Linked DNA regions of Homo sapiens: region 1 is linked to region 2. A link means that fine-mapping ties the variant in region 2 to the expression of a gene that starts in the linked region. Tissue or cell type: whole blood. Region 2 holds a variant in brackets; the other region holds the start of a gene. All regions are shown on one strand. Distances are between the middles of the regions.

Evidence for each region. PIP is the estimated chance that this variant, and not a neighbour inherited with it, causes the effect. A credible set is the group of variants that fine-mapping cannot tell apart.
Region 1: CD40LG starts here. The variant in region 2 is the best candidate, but not a certain one, in a credible set for the expression of CD40LG in whole blood (TOPMed, PIP 0.50).

Annotation. Positions count from the first base shown.
Region 1 is chrX:136,645,694-136,650,092 of GRCh38, forward strand. CD40LG (CD40 ligand) reads left to right here and starts at 2,465. Exons shown (of 5, transcript NM_000074.3): 1 at 2,465-2,711. The coding sequence starts at 2,556.
Region 2 is chrX:136,752,123-136,756,521 of GRCh38, forward strand. The region is part of intron 2 of ARHGEF6 (Rac/Cdc42 guanine nucleotide exchange factor 6); the gene reads right to left. Among named protein-coding and RNA genes, the nearest start is that of ARHGEF6, 27 kb to the right of the region's middle. The variant C/T (reference allele first, on the strand shown) is at 2,046.

The DNA.
Region 1 (4,399 bases), 110 kb before region 2:
TAGGATGGTACAATTCAGTAATCTACAAAGGAGAGGATATATGGGCCTGGAATAGGATGATGGCAGGGGCCATGGAGAGAAGTGGTGGCAACCAAGGTTTTTGGAGGAAGAAGCCACTGGGATTGGGGCAATCTGGGGCAAGAGAGAGTGAAAAATCATGAATGGATCCCAGATCTCTGACTTGGGCAATTAAGTGGGTGGTGGGACCATTCACAGAGATACGGAGAATCTTAAGGGAGAACAGGTCTGGATTGGAATTAGAGTGGTGAGATAAATTAATTTTAGAGCATACCAAATGTAAGATGGCTTTGGGATATCCAAGTAGAGATTTTCAGAGGTAGCTGTGCTTACAACTCTGAAGTTCAGGACTTCAGTTATAGATTTGAGATTTATCACAATGAAGGTGAGATTGAAACCCATGAAAGTTCATGAAACCCATGAATCACCCAATGAAACCATGGAGAACAAGAAGAGAGGGGAGGAGAGGAGAAGGGAGAAGGAAAGGAAATAGAGAGAAGGAATACCAAAGTTTTAAGGGATACAAAGAGGAAAGAAGATAACATGAAGAAGGATTCTGAGAGGCAGAAGCCCTTAAGAATAGGGTGATATAGAATTCAAGTGGGGAGAGCATTCAGGAAGATGACAACAGGATAATAGGTCAACAGAGTAATAGAGAGGTCGCTAAAAATAAACTCTAAGAAGTATTCAGCCAAAACTATTATTGAGCTAATAATGGTGGGATCAATTTCAGGGGAATATTGTGGGCAGAAGTCAGACTGTAGGAGGCTGGGGATCAAGAAGTTGAGGCAAGGAGGTTGGACAACAACTGTTTTTTCAAGTTGGTCACGTGAACAAATCTGTGACCTTCAGCCTCCCCTCCCTCGGGTCTTGGCTGAGCTGATTGCAGGGCCCCTGCAGCTCTGGCACTCTCAAGTTGTATAAAACTGACAGTGCAGAAGTCCTTGAGCCCATTTTGGCTCTCATGATAATTTTCCTTCAGTGGAACTAAGGTTACTTGTCTAAGAACCAAAGCCTCTGACTTGACTGATCAAAGTTCATCACGTGCATCGAAGCCACCTACTTGGCAGATGTAGTGAAAAGCTACATAGATCTGGGCCCAGGACAGGATGCTGGGGCGTGGGAGGGGAAGAAAGCAGGTGCTAACTATATAGATAGCATGCCTATCAGAGCAGTTTTTACGTTTCCTATTTGTCTCTCAAAACAATTTTATAGGAATCATCAAAGCAATTTTATCATGGTTTCTAGACCAGGTTTGGATGTGAGGTAGGGATTTCCACAGCTGCTTTTAGTTTGAAGGAAATCTGATAAGATGATGCAAAAGCCCTTCAGAAATGTGTAATCCTACACACTTCAGTGATTCAATTCATTGTCAAAACTTAAGGTGTTTTTAATATTGTTATTGTTCATTTGGTTTTTACCAACATGTAAGGAGTTGGCAATTATTTGTTAAACTCATGTCTTAGGCTAAATAAATTCCAAAAAATTCAGGATGAGAATTGTTTATTGCTTAACGTGTTTCAAATTTCTTCCATGCACATCTTTATTAGATCTTCACAGCAACCTACAGGATAAGCAAGACAGGTGCAAGTGCCTCCTTTGGGTATGAGGAAACTGAGGTCTAAAGAGATGAAGTGATTTGCCCAAGGCTCATAGCAATTTATTGGTAGAGCAAAGACTAGAATTCAGATCTCTTAACTGCAGCCTATTTTCCCTATTCTGAACTGTTACATCAGCATCAACAATTATCTAATGGATTGGAACAGTGTACACAGGCAGCTTAGCTACGTCAAGTCACGATTTTTACTTTAACTTCAATTCCAGAGTCTTGGCCTGATTTCCCTCAAGACCCTACTTATCTTTGCCTTTGCAAAATTTATTTTTCTTGCATTATCTTTCCAGCTAAATTTTATTTAATAACCATCAGCATGCTTTTTTTGCTTTATGCCATGTAGACTTGACCTGAAAACCTGCCAGGCTTTCATTGAGTTTAGTGATTAAAGAAGTAAAGTTCTGAGAAGCAATTAGTTGATGGGACACCAGTCATAAAATCAATCCAAACTTTTGTTGACATGTGTTTCTTTCTCCATATACCAGGTTCCCGCTTCGTATTAGTAAGATTGAAATTGAAATAAGTCTATTGCTGGTGGATGAATTTGTCACTTTCCTTGAAACTGGTGAACCCAAAAAGTTAGACAGTGATAGGAAAATACTGCCATTGTCTGTTAAGAAGTCTATGACATTTCAAGGCAAGAATGAATATATGGAAGAAGAAACTTGTTTCTTCTTTACTTACAAAAAGGAAAGCCTGGAAGTGAATGATATGGGTATAATTAAAAAAAAAAAAAAAAACAAAAAACCTTTACGTAACGTTTTTGCTGGGAGAGAAGACTACGAAGCACATTTTCCAGGAAGTGTGGGCTGCAACGATTGTGCGCTCTTAACTAATCCTGAGTAAGGTGGCCACTTTGACAGTCTTCTCATGCTGCCTCTGCCACCTTCTCTGCCAGAAGATACCATTTCAACTTTAACACAGCATGATCGAAACATACAACCAAACTTCTCCCCGATCTGCGGCCACTGGACTGCCCATCAGCATGAAAATTTTTATGTATTTACTTACTGTTTTTCTTATCACCCAGATGATTGGGTCAGCACTTTTTGCTGTGTATCTTCATAGAAGGTTGGACAAGGTAAGATGAACCACAAGCCTTTATTAACTAAATTTGGGGTCCTTACTAATTCATAGGTTGGTTCTACCCAAATGATGGATGATGGTAGAAACCAAATAGAAGAATGGTCTTGTGGCATAATGTTTGTTGCCTAGTCAATGAAGTCTCATATTCTTGTCTCTGGTTAGGATCTTGGGATCTGGAGTCAGACTGCCTGGGTTCAAATCTTGGCTCTGCCCATACCATCTCTGTTATCCTGGGGCAAGTGCCTCAGTTTCCACATCTGAGAAATGGGGATGGTATTGGTGTCCATTTCATAGATTAAGTGAGTTTAGCCTTGTAAAAAGCTTAGGAGGGGGTCTGATACATAGTAAGCACTATGTACGCACTAGCTATAATTATTTGCTAAAGTTCTGCTTTAAAAGTAAGCTATTTTTTTATGGAGACAGCTTTTTTCTTTTAAATTTCCAGCTAGGCAAGAAGAGCGTCAATTTGATCTAAAATTTCATAATGCTTCAGATTAACATAGACATGGATAAGTCCCAGAATTTGCAGTCTTTTAGTAAAAGTAGCATTTTCTGTGTAATTCTTCACAAGCACTGATTGTAGTTGCAGGATGCTCAGTCTCCCTCTGAGATGTTTTACATTTTTAAATGGTTAGACTTGCAGGAACAAAAGAGCAGAGTAACTTAGTAGGCTGTTTTGCATTCTTAGGAAAAGAAAACCATCAGGACTTATTTTGTTTTCATGTATTTTTTCACTTCCACTGAGGAGTATAATTGGCTGGTGTTGACAAAATACCAATCATAGATGTAAAGGAGAAAGTTGATTAGTTTTCTGGCTGTTCCTAAAATTCTGGATGCAGGAACTGTGGCTAGAAAGCATCTGGATGATTGCACTTTATCAGGGATACTTGAGTGTCCTCTCTTAGGATCTGGACCTAGAATTAATGTCATGAGATTTTTCTAACAGGATAAGGTGAGGTAGTGAGGGCTGAAGTCATCCACTGGGTTATCCAAATATTAGGTTTCACTGCTGACAAAAGAGGGGGCTTCTGGTCTGGTTGGTTATTTGTGTTTGGCCTGATGTGCTCTGTCAATCAAATGTATGGACATAGGCCTAGCTTCTAAAGGGGCAATAGTGACCTCAGTGGACTGATATTTACCGTACTATTTACATGTGCTCTTAATTACAGCAGAAGCTGCCAGCTAACTGAATCTTGTTTTGAATCTAAAAAATCTACTCTTAAAGCAAGAAAATGGTATAAAATTAGTTGATAATGCAAGTGAATTCTGTACATTTAATTATTCTAAGACATTGGAAAATAAAATATCTTGTTACTTTGAGGATAAAAGATGATTTCTTTAAAAATGCAAATGTTTTCTACAAATACTAAAGTTAAAAGGGAGAGAGATGTAATTAGAACTCGTTAACTGACACATTGCAAATTAACTTCTTTTTATAAAGCACTGCATCACAAACACTAAAATGAAGTGGGCAAATTAGCTCTGCAGAAAACTATTTTCTAGGCTGATGTTTATAATGACCAATCATTACTGAAGCAATGAGAAATGTGACAATTACAGAATATTGCTGCTATAGTATGTTGAAAAAATATGCATTTTGTAGTGAACATTTAGTAGAATAGCTCTGATTTCTACCTGGAGTTTCTGATAACATGACATCTTAATTGCTGTCTTTTATAGATT
Region 2 (4,399 bases):
TTGCTTCTGTCAATACAAGTAGCATCTGTATCATCTGCATCGAGTTTGTTATAGCCTCTAAAATGATTAATTCAACTAATTGTAGCAAAGAGAAAATTTTCCATATTACAAGACTGTCTCCACAGGGGCCTTGCCTAATTCCTGTGCTGTCCTTCCCATTTCAAGGGTCAGCCTTCACCTAGGAGGCACTTGGCCACATTTGCCAAAAGAGGGGAAAAGCTACACTAAGCTCCTCCTATTTGTTGAACCAGGTCTGCCTCGTGAGCCACGATCCATATTTGTGAGGTCCTGGTCTGGTAGGGGTCCAGCTCGTGATTACAGAACCAAGCTAAAACATCTGTGCCACGTGCAATGACACCTAGCCTCCTGATTTTCTTGACATCATGCTCTAACCACCTGAGTTAACCAGTCACAGCAGTCTAGCCACATCTTAGTTAAGAAAAGAAGGCATACCCTACCCTGGTTCAGAACTGGTCATCTTTAATGTCATGTGGTTTCAGTAACACCCAATCAACTGCTATTTAAAGGTAATTTAAGGTTGGGGGTGATTATAATAGGTTCCATTACTCAAGAGTTAAAAGTCTAATCAACTGAAAAGCAAGTGATACATTGGGACCACAAGGACATATAGCTTATATTTCAAGCCTGTTTTTTAAAAAAGATTCCAAATATTTAGGAACATTCCAGCTCTTCCTTGTTCTTATTGCTCTTATTGAACAAAATCTTAAATTAACTTAGCTCATCTTGAATCACATTCTTTAATTCTCACAGCTGAGCACACTGCCTCTGTTAACCCCTGAACTTTGGTGGAAATGTCATTACATAGTGCAACAGAGCAAGCAAATCTGAGCTGCTTAGTCATATTTCACTGGGTGGTACCGCTCCTGGCCCTGTGAACGTGATCTGGGATGTGTGCACATAGCTCCTACTAAAAGCAGTCACAAAGTCAGCAACAAATAATGCTCTTAGCTCAGAAATTGGATTCATTACCCACTGGTATTCCACTTACTAGAATATAGTGGATGGCATTTCTACTCTGCCTGGTTTTAAATAATAGCTGTTCCTATTTGATATGGACCAAACTTAAGGGAGCAAATCTTGCTCTCAACTTTTATTTCCTCCCTTTCTCTCCAAGATCTAATTTGTGCCTGTAGCTGAAACAACATACAGTGTATTGGAAAGAGCACTGATGTGAGAGTCAGAAGACTTTGACTCCAATCTCAGCTTTGTCACTATTGAGCAGTTGTGAGGACCTTAGGAAAGCAACACTACCTTTATGAGGCTCCATTTCCCATCTGGAAAGTGTCTTTGAGCAAAGGAGCTCAGTGAGAGGTCTTGTGGTCCATCATCTAAATAGGAGCTTTTAAAGGCAGCATCTTGGCTGGGTCCCCAAGGCCCAGAATCAGGTCTTCAGTTCTCAAGGCTCTTGAGAATGGACTCACACTAGCCAAGCTCATAAAAGGCCAATGCATAAACCAAAAGGCCAATTTCTTAATTTTTACTAAAAATAAATGAAGCACTAAGAAGATTAAATACTCCCATTTTCTGGCCAGGGCACTCTCTCCCAATAGAGAAATCTCTCTGGTGAGCTAAATTATAATGAGAAATGTGTTGAGTACTACAGAATCAGAGCAAAGAGAGTCTAGGGTATTGCAGCCTAACATGCTTACAACCTGTTTACAAGCTGATTTTTCAAAATGTCATTTTTAAATGACCTATTTATAAATTCTGGCTTTATCTTGCTGCCACTGCATCGTGGCATTTGGACTGTGATCATGGACAGCTTTAACTCTCTATGTTTTCTTTTTGGCTCTGTGGATTTCTATAAAGTCACTTTACATAACTAATATGGACTCCTAGATTACTCGAACCTCATAGAATCTAGAGCCAGGAAGTTCAGCTCCATGGAGCTCCTATGACAGAAGCCAAGATCTGAGCTTTCTCCCTCACTCTTCATTAAGTCACAAATCTCATTCCCTGACGGCTACCTCAGCATCACCATAGGACTCCCATTCTTCCTTGTTAGCACTCCTATAGGGGAGAAC[C/T]CCTTTCTCTATAACAGAGACTTTAGTTGAGTATTAAGTGTTCAGGTAAGAGGGGAATGAATGAAGAACAATATAGGCATCTTAGTGGGGCCAGTCACAGGATTAAATAAAGGGAGAGCAAAAGAGAACAACTGATGGCTGGGCACAATGGCTCACACCTGTAATCCCAGCACCTTGGGAGGCCGAGGTAGGTGGATCACTTGAGTCCAGGAGTTCGAGACCAGACTGGCCAGCATAGTGAAACCCATCTCTTCTAAAAATACAAAAATTAGCCAGGTGCAGTGGTGGGCACCTGTAATCCCAGCTACTCAGGAGGCTGAGGTAGAAGAATGGCTTGAATCTGGGAGGCGGAGGTTGCAGCGAGCTGAGATTGCACCACTGCACTCCAGCCTGGGCAACAGCGAAACCCCGCCTCAAAAAAAAAAAAAACAACGAAAGAAAAGAAAAGAAAAAGAAAAAAGAAGAAGGAACAACTGGTTTTGAATAATCTCACCAAAAAGAGAGTAGGCATGAAGGAAAGGGAAAAATGAAATATCTCTTGTCAATAGCCCTTGCCAAGCCAAGGACAGGAAGCAGGAGGCCTAGACTCAGCTGCCTCACAGTCAGCCAGCCATTGTGGCTTGGCGGGCTCCCACCCCTCCTCCTGTGCTCCTGTCACCAGAGCCTTTGCAAAAGCACACTGGTTGCCAGTTTTGCGGTGTGGGGTGGATGGGTGATCTCTCAGCTGCTGGAGCATCTGTGTGCCAGACATGAGGGTGTCTTCCCCAATGCCCCCACTCCCACCCCTTTAGAAACAGGGACTGACTCCCTAGTGTTCCAAATTGGAATGCGGAACACATTTTCCCAGAAACAGCATCACACCTGCCACTTAGCCTCTGTGAGTTCTATAGTTCAGCCACATTAAGTATTCAACAGGCTGTTGTGGGCCAGCCAGAAAACATAATCACCGTGTTGAGCCTTGTTTCTATGGGAAAATGTTTTCTGTGTCCCTAATAATCACTTAAAAATGAACTTTTGGAAAATAATTTGTTTTTACATTGAAGAGTGGCCAGACATGTGTTCCCAAATCAATGTCCAACATCCTTTATGCTTTTTCCTTGTCCCTTCATATAAAAGATGAACAAATGCCCTAGACATTCAGGGTACTATTTATTTTAGAACTCTTAGTGATGAGAGAATCAAGGTAAATATATGAAGTCCGTGAGAATACCCTCAGAAATTTCAGTAGTCAGCAGCTCCTCCGTGCCTGTTTAACAATCCAGGCAGTTAGAGAGGAGCCTCACCTATGGAGAGAAGGCTCCCTTGGTCCCTGCTTTCCTAGCAGCTACTAAGATTTAGGGTAGGAGCCCCAGAGCCTACCAGAATTTACAGCAGAGACTGGTGGTAAATAGCCCCACACAAAGACTAGGGAGAAACGAGGGCCATGAAACAAAAGAGCCACTGCTAGTCGCCTTCAGCAGCAGCCCTTCCAAGTATCACCTGTTGCTATCCATAATGTCCTCACTGACCTACCTTCATGTTTCTTTTTTCCAAACAGCTACAGCTTTATAGTCTGTAGAGATGTTGTAAATTTAAGCTGTCAGTGGTCTATCAGCCCAATATTCTTTATTCATTATGCAGGTACTGAGATTAGTCCTGAATTTCCTATTAAAAGGTAGGCTCTTTGAAGTCCGCATTCCCCCACAGACCTGGCCCCAATATTCAACATACACGAAATACTTGATAAATAACCATTCATTGGTTGATTGACAGGATGCTCTGTCAGAGAGACTTATAAAGGTAAATTATGCCTAGAACGTAAGCCCCATGATGTCAATTTTTTTTTCACTTCTGGATCCTCAGTGTCTAGAAGAGTGCCTGTCACGCAGTAGGCACTCAATAGATATTTGGTTAATTAATGAGAGTTTAGCTGTTCTCATCAATAGATGATTAATCATACTTGAAGAAAAAGTATTGCAGAAAGTATAATAAACTCAGAAAGAGATATCACTTAGGAAAGAAAAAAAACAATCTCCACGCAATTTTCCAGGAAACATGTAACATCTAAAATTAGATGTACCTGTGCTCATCAGCAAAATTAAGCTCTGTGACCACGAGGTGACCAAAGGTGCTTCAGACTCTACGGTTGTTAATTTTTTAAGTTGTGTGCTGAGTGTGGGCAACATCTGCAACTGCTTGCCTGTCCCAGGTAATAGAGGTTCCTCTAAATGCCATCACAAAGCACCATGACCTCATTATCATAGAGAAGAGAAGTTGCAAAGAACTGTGGGATTTTACTGCTTTTTCTGGAATTGGTTATATTTTCAACCGTTTTTGTTGTAAAACTGAATAAATGGCAAACACTACAAGCCACC